Homo sapiens: one gene and its partner. The protein of the gene in region 2 purifies or fractionates together with the protein of the main gene of each other region. This does not show direct contact. Each region holds a gene or a part of one and is shown on either strand. Other genes may lie near its edges.

What was found. The genes of interacting proteins can lie anywhere in the genome.
Region 1: the proteins of AP1M2 (region 2) and AP1G1 purify together in Homo sapiens (affinity purification with mass spectrometry; 6 studies listed by BioGRID and IntAct, with this or other methods). This does not show direct contact.

What each region holds. Positions count from the first base shown.
Region 1 is NC_000016.10:71,748,621-71,754,093, forward strand, and holds part of AP1G1 (AP-1 complex subunit gamma-1), read right to left. Parts: intron 5,268-5,473; coding exon 5,213-5,267; intron 1,713-5,212; coding exon 1,590-1,712; intron 1,364-1,589; coding exon 1,274-1,363; intron 1-1,273. UniProt on the Homo sapiens protein: Subunit of clathrin-associated adaptor protein complex 1 that plays a role in protein sorting in the late-Golgi/trans-Golgi network (TGN) and/or endosomes.
Region 2 is NC_000019.10:10,573,767-10,578,310, reverse strand, and holds part of AP1M2 (AP-1 complex subunit mu-2), read left to right. Parts: intron 1-954; coding exon 955-1,113; intron 1,114-3,281; coding exon 3,282-3,407; intron 3,408-3,818; coding exon 3,819-3,894; intron 3,895-4,544. UniProt on the Homo sapiens protein: Subunit of clathrin-associated adaptor protein complex 1 that plays a role in protein sorting in the trans-Golgi network (TGN) and endosomes.

The sequences.
Region 1 (5,473 bases), on a different chromosome or scaffold from region 2:
TGACCACTGGGGCTGAGAGGCAATATTAGAGCTTCAAGTGGCAGAAACAGAAGAAGAAAAGAAAAACATACAGAGTTCAAGTGTTGTTGCCACAATTTTCCCTTTTAAAGCCAGTCCTTTAATGTGCAAATAAGAACATGGATACATGTCTCATTTCTTCTTGTTTACCAGCCAGAGGGTAAGAGAAACAGTAATTCAGTCCACTAGGACAGAGACTTGGGCCTAAAGTGGTTTTAAAATCTCACAATGGGGCCAGGCAAAGTGGCTCACACCTGTTTTGTTTTTTTTTTGTTTTTTTTGTTTTGAGACGGAGTCTGGCTCTGTCACCCAGGCTGGAATGCAGTGGCGCAATCTTGGCTCACTGCAAGCTCCACCTCCCGGGTTCACGCCATTCTCCTGCCTCAGCCTCCCGAGTAGCTGGGACTACAGGTGCCTGCCACCACGCCCGGCCAATTTTTTCTACTTTTTAGTAGAGATAGGGTTTCACTGTGTTAGCCAGGATGGTCTGGCTAACCACCCTGCAGGTGACCTCATGATCCACCCGCCTTGGCCTCCCAAAGTGCTGGGATTACAGGCATGAGCCACCACACTCAGCAATGCCTGTTAATCCCAACACTTTGAGAGGCCAAGGCAGGCAGATTGCTTGAGTCCAGAAGTTCAAGACCAGCCTGGGCAACACGGTGAAACCCTGTCTCTACAAAAAAAAAGTAGAATAAACTAGCCAGGGTGGTGCCTGCCTATAGTCCCAGCTACTCAGGAGGCTGAGGTGGGAAGATCGCTTGAAACCCAGGAGATCAAGGCTGCAGTGAATTGTGATCCCACCATGGCACTCCAGCTTGGGTGACAGAGTGAGACTCTATTAAAAAAAAAAAAACAAAAAACCTCACAATGGCTCAATAAGTTCCATCTCAAAAAATGGCAGGTTTTCCAATATAATTCGCGTTTGCTTCTTTAAAAAGTTGGGTATTTTTTAAATTTTTTTGAGACAGGGTCTCACTCCTGAGTAGCTGGGACTAGACACCATCATACCTGTCTAATATTTGTGTCTTTTGTAGAGACAGAGTTTCACCATGTTGCCCAGGCTGGTCTCAAACTCCTGGGCTCAAGCGATGCTCCCATCTCAGCCTCCCAAAGCGCTGGGATTATAGGCATGAGCCACCACGCCTGGCCTAAAAAGTTTTCAAGGAATCAACCTCAACTCCCCATTAAACACTACTCTCCTATAACCAAAACCACTATTTTCCCCCACTTAACCAAGAGTGACAAGGAGTACCTGAATAGGCTCTTCCTCTTCACACTGGCCAGATACAAGAAGATCACCATATTCACCTATACACCATGCAGCCACTTGTACCAAAGGTTGCTGTGAAAAGAAAAGTCAACGTTTCTCAAGAACTTCAATTTTTCCAAAGTTATTTAATGCAAATCATAGGTCATCTCATAATAAAGATCAAAACTGTGCATATCTAGAGTGTTAGAAATAAAGACATACCAAAGGGGAGAGAGGAGGGGGGAAAAAAAAGAAGAAAAACATACCAGAAAAATTGAGGGTAAAATTACCCCCTAAAATAGTTGAATGAAGTACTTACTTGAGAATAATCACCAAGAATTGCTTTGTACAGGCGCTGGACAGTATAGGCATGCATCTCCACACTATTAGTTATTAACTGGATTAAATTGGGGACTGCATCATCACGAACATAACTTCCTGCCTAAAAGGAAATGCAGACAATTACCCCTAGAAACACACAGAAATGATGATAACAAGTGTTAGCTATTATTATTACTGTGTGTTTTTTCCTTTCTTTTTTTGAGACAGAGTCTCGCTCTGTCACCCAGGCTGGAGTGCGATAGCGCGATCTTGGCTCACTGCAACCTCCACCTCCCAGGTTCAAGCGATTCTCATGCCTCAGCCTCCCAAGTAGCTGGGACTACAGGTACATGCCACCACACCTGGCTAATTTTTTCTATTTTTAGTAGAGATGGGGTTTCACCATGTTGGTCAGGGTGGTCTCGAACTCCTGACCTCAGATGATCCACCTGCCTCGGCCTCTCAAAGTGCTGGGATTACAGGCGTGTGCCACTGCGCCCAGCCATTACTATTGTTTTTAAAAGAAGAATACCAGAAAACACCCTCAAAGATAAATTTGGTTCCAATTCTCAGGTTCATAACAGCTCAAACTTCAAAGTCTTATTTAAATATGTTACATTTTTAAATTTTATTTTATTTTTAAAAATTTTCTCTTTGTCCAAAGGCCGGGTGTGGTGGCTCACGCCTGTAATCCCAGCACTTTGGGAGGCCAAGGCGGGTGGATCACAAGGTCAGGAGATCGAGACCATCCTGGCTAACACGATGAAACCCCGTCTCTACTAAAAATACAAAAAATTAGCCGGGCATGTGGTGGGTGCTTGTAGTCCCAGCTACTCAGGAGGCTGAGACAGCAGAATGGCGTGAACCCAGGAGGCCGAGCTTGCAGTGAGCCGAGTTTGCGCCACTGCACTCCAGCCTGAGCAACAGACTGAGACTCCGTCTCAAAAAAAAAAAAAAAAAAATTTCTCTTTGTCCAAATTAAAAAAGGAAGGCTGGACACAGTGGCTCACACCTGTAATCGCAGCACTTTGGATGGCTGAAGCAAGATGACTGCTTGAGGCCAGGAGTTTGACACAAGCCTGGGCCACACAGCAAGACTCCATCACTACCAACAATAATAATAATAATAATAATAATGTAAAGGTTTAAAACTTTATCACCCAACCTTGGTCAATCTCCCATTCCTAAATAGAACAATAGATTTAATTTGTAAGACTGAGACCAGTCCTAACCATGTGTATTTTGGAAAGGAAAAAAAAGAAAAAAAAAAAAAAACAGCCAGGTGATCAGGGTTTTATCAGGTCACTCCTGTTAAGAAACACAAAGACAGAGGAAGAATTCTGGGAAAATGATCAGAAGGAAAGGTGAGAAGCTAAAAAGCAGGTAATTTGCAGTATAGTTTATTTACATCCTTCCGTAAAGCAGAGTGCATTAAATACAAGAAAGCATCAGGGTGATCTAATGGGTTTGTATAATAAGACTACTTCATTCAACAGCAGCAGAATACACATTTTTCTTAAACTTACACTGAACCAAGAAAGACCATATTCTGGGTCATAAAAAATATCTTAACAAATTTCAAATAACATAAATCATAGACAGTATGCTCTTAGACCACACAGAATTAAACTAGAAATCTGCAACACAAAGACAGGTGCAAAAAAATCCCAAAATATTTGGAGATTAAAAGAACATACTTCTAAATAACACATGGGTCAAAAACAACATTATAAGAGAAAACTATAAGCCAATCTCTCTCATGAATACACATATAAAAATACTCAACAAGATATTAGCAAATCAAACCCAACAAAGTTATAAAAAGAATAATATACCCTGACCACGTATTCCAGGTATGTAAGGCTGGTTAGGCATTCAAATATCAATGTAACCCAGCATGTAACAGGCTAAAGAAAACAAATCACATGATCATAAGAGAACACAAGTCAGTTAGAAAAATAAAATCAGGGGCACAAAAAAAAAGCTTTTGAATTCTCATAAACACTTTCCTTCAGGAGTGTTAATTTCTCCCTTCTTTTGAGCCTCATGAAAACTAGGAAAACATGTCCTGTTCATCATTATGTTAATTACATTTTGTTAGATTATAATTTTTCCCCTTGCTAATCAAATTTATTAACTTTTAACCTTTTACCAAGTTAATTCATTGTAAGTAAACTAAAAAACGAGTATGCCCCAGAGAGAATTCCACAGCAACAAATACATATACATATAAGTCATAATTTCATAAGTCAACAAATACATATAAGTCATAATTTCAATGATATAATTTTCTCCCTACAGATGTTTCATAATTTACTTAATCCCCATTTGGGGACTACTAGTTGTTTCCGGTTTTCTCCTACTATAAACAATATTAGGATGAATACTTTTACATACACATTTTTGTGTACTTGTCCTATTATTTTTTCAGGCTAAAGTCCTAAAAATTGAATTAATGAATCAAAGGGTACAATTTAAGGCTTTTCCTACATGCTACCAAACTGCATAGTAAAAAGATGGCATCATCCTATACTCCCATAAAGTGAAGAGTACTGCCTGTTTCTCTATTTTCTAACACTGGGAATTAGATTAAAAAATACGAAATGTGAAAAATGATACCTCAATTTTACTTTATTTCTTTAATAAGAAAATTTTTTCAAATGTTAATTAGCCATTTCTTTCTTCATGAATTGCTGGTTCAAATACCAATTTTTCCATTAGAGTGGTATTTCCTATCAATTATAAATTATTCATAGATTGAATATATTAATATGCTGTCATAAGTTAATGTTTTCCCCAGTTGTTAATTTGCCTTTTAAATCGTAGACTGTTCCCCTTTTTGTTATTCAATTTTTAAATTTTAATATGGTTAAATTTGTGGCTTTTCCTTTACAGTAGCTACTTCTAGTGACTTAATTAATGGAAATGGTTTTCTTTACATGTCACTGCACTTTCATTTTTACTCTTAAATACCTAATCCTTGCCTACTAATTGAATAATAAACACAGAAACCCTGAATTTCTGCAAGAATGCCAAAGAAAGGATCCCATCCAAAACAGGATTTCAAATCCTGAGTAACTTTAGCCATTCAAAACCCTGCAATGGCTTCCTAACATATTCAAAATAAAATGCAAGCTCCCATGAGGCCTACATAGTCTGGCTCCGCTTATGTCTCTGACATCCATCCTACCATTCTCTGCCTCTCTCACTTTATGGCTTCACTTGCCTTCCTGTTGCTCTCCAAGCAAGCTATGCTTGTTCCTACCTCAGGTCTTTGCACTTAGGGTTCCCTCCGTATGGTACACTATTCCTCACGATCTCTGCATGGCTTGCACCTCATGTCTCTTAGGTCTCTACTCAAATGTTATCTCCTCTGAGAGACCTCCCTGACTAACTCTAATCTAAAACACTTGGCCAGTTGCCCTATATCCCACCTTATCCTGCCATCATTATATTCCTCCATGCTGCTTTAGGTTTTTCTTCATGGCATTTATTCCTAACTGACATTAATGTTACCTATTTACTTGTGAATTTCTTACCTCCCTGACTAGAACATAAACTTCATGATAACATCAGTATATCCCAGCACTTCGTATATGCTGTCTGAAAGAAGCTACTTACCGTTGTCAAAACACGCATAATTGTGTCTATATGCCATCGTTTGGAAGGTGCATACCTGAAAAAAACAATGGAAAGGGACACTTGGAACCAGTAAAATATACCGTTTTCAGTGACTAGAAAATCCTGCCCAAGCAGGGTGACTCACACCTGTCATCCCAACATCTTGGGAGGCCGAGGTGGGAGATCACCTGAGCTCAGGAGTTCGAGACCAGCCTGGGCAACACGGTGAAACTCCATCTCACCAAAAAATACAAAAATTAG
Region 2 (4,544 bases):
CAGGTGTGGCCCACCACCCCCGGCTTTTTTCAACAAGCCTTTCATATGCCCTCTCAGCCCAGGCCTCCACAATCCTAAGGTGGGGACCCTTATCCTGTCCATTTTACAGATGAGGAAACTGAGGCACACAGAAGTTAAGGCATTTGCCTGCAGATACACAGCCAACAACTGTTAGAACTCAGGCCCACACCCATGAGGCTCGAGAAGCCCTGTTCTTGGTGCCTTCCATGTGGACAGCACCATACACCTTTGCCTGATTCAAAATGACCCCTTCAGGCTGGGTGCAGTGGTTCATACCTGTAATCCCAGCATGTTGGGAGGCGGAGGCAGTAGGATCACCTGAGGTCAGGCGTTCCAGACCAGCCTGACCAACATGGAGAAACGCTGTCTCTACTAAAAATACAAAATTAGCAGGGCGTGGTGGCACATGCCTGTAATCCCACCTACTTGGGAGGCTGAGGCAGGAGAATTGCTTGAACCCAGGAGGCGGAGGTTGCCGTGAGCGGAGATTGTGCCACTGCACTCCAGCCTGGGTGACAGAGAGAGACTCCGTCTAAAAAAAAAAAAAAAAAAAAAGGCCAAGCATGGTGGCTCACGCCTGTAATCCCAGCACTTTGAGAGGCCGGGGTGGGCGGATCACGAGGTCAGGAGATCGAGAACATCCTGGCTAACATGCTGAAACCCCGTCTCTACTAAGAATACAAAAAAAATTAGCTGGGCGTGCTGGCGGGTGCCTGTAGTCCCAGCTGCTCAGGAGGCTGAGGTAGGAGAATGGCGTGAACCTGGGAGGCGGAGCTTACAGCCAGCCGAGATCGCGCCACTGCACTCCAGCCTGGGCGACAGAGTGAGACTCCGTCTCAAAAAAAAAAAAAAAAAAAAAAAAAAAAGGGCTTGGTAAATATTTGAAGGATGAGCAAGCGAATTCTTCGTGCCCCATGCTCGCTCCCCTGACAGGCCAAGGGGCAGTTTAAGAAACAGTCAGTGGCCAACGGTGTGGAGATATCTGTGCCTGTACCCAGCGATGCCGACTCCCCCAGATTCAAGACCAGTGTGGGCAGCGCCAAGTATGTGCCGGAGAGAAACGTCGTGATTTGGAGTATTAAGTCTTTCCCGGTAAGTACCAGGGACTGGCGGGGGATCTGGGGGTGGAGGGGACTGGAGTAGTGTGGGGGCTGCCCAGGAGCCATGAGAACAAGGCAGAGAACAAATCAGAGACCCAGTCAGGTGTGATGGCTCATGACTGGAATGCCAGTACTTTGAGAGGCTGACACGGGCAGATCGCTTGAACCCAGGAGCTGGAGACCAGCCTGGGGAACACAGTGAGACCCTGCCTCTATAAAAATATTAAGAGGAGCTGGGCGCAGTGGCTCACGCCTGAAATCCCAGCCTGGCTAACATAGAGACGGCTAACATCCGTCTCTAGTAAAAGTACAAAAATTAGCTGGGTGTGGTGGCGCATGCCTGTAATCCCAGCCACTCGGGACACTGAGGCAGGAGAATTGCTTGAACCCGGGAGGCAGAGGTTGCAGTGAGCTGAGATTGTGCCACTGCACACTCCAGCCTGGGCAACAGAACGAGACTCCGTCTCAAAAAAAAAAAAAAAAGATTAAAAGGCCAGACATGGTGGCTCATACCTGTAATCCCAGCACTTTGGGAGGCTGAAGCGGGCAGATCACCTGAGGTCAGAAGTTCAAGACCAGCCTGGCCAACATGGTGAAAACCCGTCTCTACTAAAAATACAAAAATTAGGGCAGGGCACGGTGGCTCACGCCTGTAATCCCAGCACTTTGGGAGGCCGAGGTGGGCGGATCACGAGGTCAGGAGATCGAGACCATCCTGGCTAACATGGTGAAACCCCATCTCTACTAAAAATACAAAAAATTAGCCGGGCGTGGTTGCAGGCGCCTGTAGTCCCAGCTATTTGGGAGGCTGAGGCAGGAGAATGGCCTGAACTCGGGAGGTGGAGCTTGCAGTGAGCAGAGATCACGCCACTGCACTCCAGCCTGGGTGACAGAGCGAGACTCCATTTCAAAAAAAAAAAAAAAAAAAAAATTAGCCGGGCATGGGGGTGTGCGCCTGTAGTACCAGCTACTCAGGAGGCTGAGGCAGGAGAATCACTTGAACCCGGGAGGCGGAGGTTGCAGTGAGTTGAGATCACGCCACCGCACTCCAGCCTGGGTGACAGAGTGAAACTCTGTCTCAAGAAAAAAAAAAAAACTTAGAAAAAAGAAATACAAGGCCAGGCGCAGTGGCTCACGCCTGTAATTCCCAGCACTTTGGGAGGCTGAGGCGGGCAGATTACGAGGTCAGGAGATCGAGACCATCCTGGCTAACACTGTGAAACCCCGTCTCTACTAAAAATACAAAAAAAAAAAAAATTAGCTGGGCGTGGTGGCGGGCGCCTGTAGTCCCAGCTACCGGGAGGCTGAGGCAGGAGAATGGCGTGAACCTGGGAGGCGGAGCTTGCAGTGAGCCAAGACCGCACCACTACACTCCAGCCTGGGCGACAGAGTAAGACTCCATCTCAAAAAAAAAAAAAAAGAAAAAAAAAGAAAAAAAAAGAAAAAAGAAATACAAGTAAATCAGAGAGGTACGTATGTATGCAAGTGATCAAGCTTGAAACCAGGCCAGTCTATTTCACAGACGTGTAAACTTCCATGACGGGAAGTGTGTGGATTTAAATATCCCCCTGCCAATGTCTTGAGGAAACCAGCCCTGGGTTCACCTTCCTCACTATTGCTTTGCTGAGCTGGGTGGGTTTGGGAAACCCATTTCCACTTAAGGAGGCTCAGTTTGCCTGTCTGTGAAATGGGCAGGATGAGGTGACCCACATCCCTTGGCTACTAGAGGTTTTGGTTTGTCCCCATGATCTTGGGAGAGGTGGATCATCAGTGCCTGTAAAACAGGACATGGTAGTTAAAAAAAGAAAAAAACCCTGATTGGGTTTTGCAGTCAGAATCTTCCCTGGTGAGTCTCTGTCACCCAGGTTGGGGTGCAGTGGTGAGATCATGGCTCACTGCAGCCTCAAACTCCCAGACTCAAGGGATCTTCCTGCCTCAGCCTCCCAAGTAGCTGAAACTGCAGGCATGTTCCACCGCACCCAGCTAATTTTTAAACTTTTTGTAGACATGGTATCTCAATATGTTGCCCAGGCTAAGGAGCCTTTATTTTCCTGTCTGTGAAATGGGCTGTGAGCAGATCTGACTCCAGGGGTTGCTGAAAGGAAGGTCTCGGGAGGGTAGGCGGACCCTCGTGTACCTGATGCCCCCATGTTCCCTCAGGGGGGCAAGGAGTACTTGATGCGAGCCCACTTTGGCCTCCCCAGTGTGGAAAAGGAAGAGGTGGAGGGCCGGCCCCCCATCGGGGTCAAGTTTGAGATCCCCTACTTCACCGTCTCTGGGATCCAGGTGAGAGAAGCAGGCAGGGAGGATCCTCCCCTTGACTTCGGTGGGTTCCCCTCTCTCCTGTCCCTTGGCTCGAGTCACCTCAGTCCCCTGGCCTGTGTCAACACTCCTCTGAAGGCTGCCTGGTCTTTCCCAGAGCAATGTTACCTTTATCTGCCCACAGCCTGTGCTCCCTCTCCCCCGGCCTGTGCCACCTTGTTCCCCACCGGCTTGTTCACTTCTGTCCCTTCTCCACCTCCAAAGCCATTCACCATTCCGTTGCCTGTGCCACCTCATCCCCCTAAGACCATGTGATATCCCCTCATCGATCCCAGCCTGTGCCACATAGCCGCTTGGCCTAAGCCGTCTCTTTCTCCCTGGCCCTGGCCTCCTCCCTCCTGCAATCCTGGACCACCTCTTTTCATTCCCTTCCAGGTCCGATACATGAAGATCATTGAGAAAAGTGGTTACCAGGCCCTGCCCTGGGTTCGCTACATCACCCAGAGTGGCGGTAAGGCAGCCCAGCTCCTGGGGACAATGGGGTGAGGGAAAGGCAGTGGGTAGGGACTCGAGGCTTTCACCACATTCTGGCTCAGAAAACCAACAAGGGTCAGGTGTGATGGTTCAGGTGTGTAATCCTAGCACTTTGGGAGGCCAAGGCGGGTGGATCTCTTGAGGCCGGGAGTTCGAGACCAACCTGGCCAACATGGTGAAACCCTGTTTCTACTAAAAATACAAAAATTAGCCGGGTGTGGTGGTGTATGCCTATAATCCAAGCTACTCAGGAAGCTGAGGCAGAATTGCTTGAACCCGGGAGGTGGAGGTTGCAGTGAGCTGAGATCGTGCCACTGCACTCCTGCCTGGTCGACAGAAACCCTGTCTCAAAAAATGAAAAAGAAAGCAAACTGCCCCTTCTTGTCATGGCACCCTGGGCCTTGGTTTGCACGTCTTTAAAATGGGGGCAGTTGGCTGGGTGTGGTGGCTCACATCTGTAATTCCAGCACTTTGGGAGGCTGAGGTGGGAGGACCGCTTGAGCTCAGGAGTTCCAGACCAGCCTTGGCAACACAGCAAAACCCCTTCACTACAAAAAATATAAAAATTAGCCAGGTGTGATGTGCACACCTGTAGTCCCAGCAACTCAGGAGGCTGAGGTGGGAGGA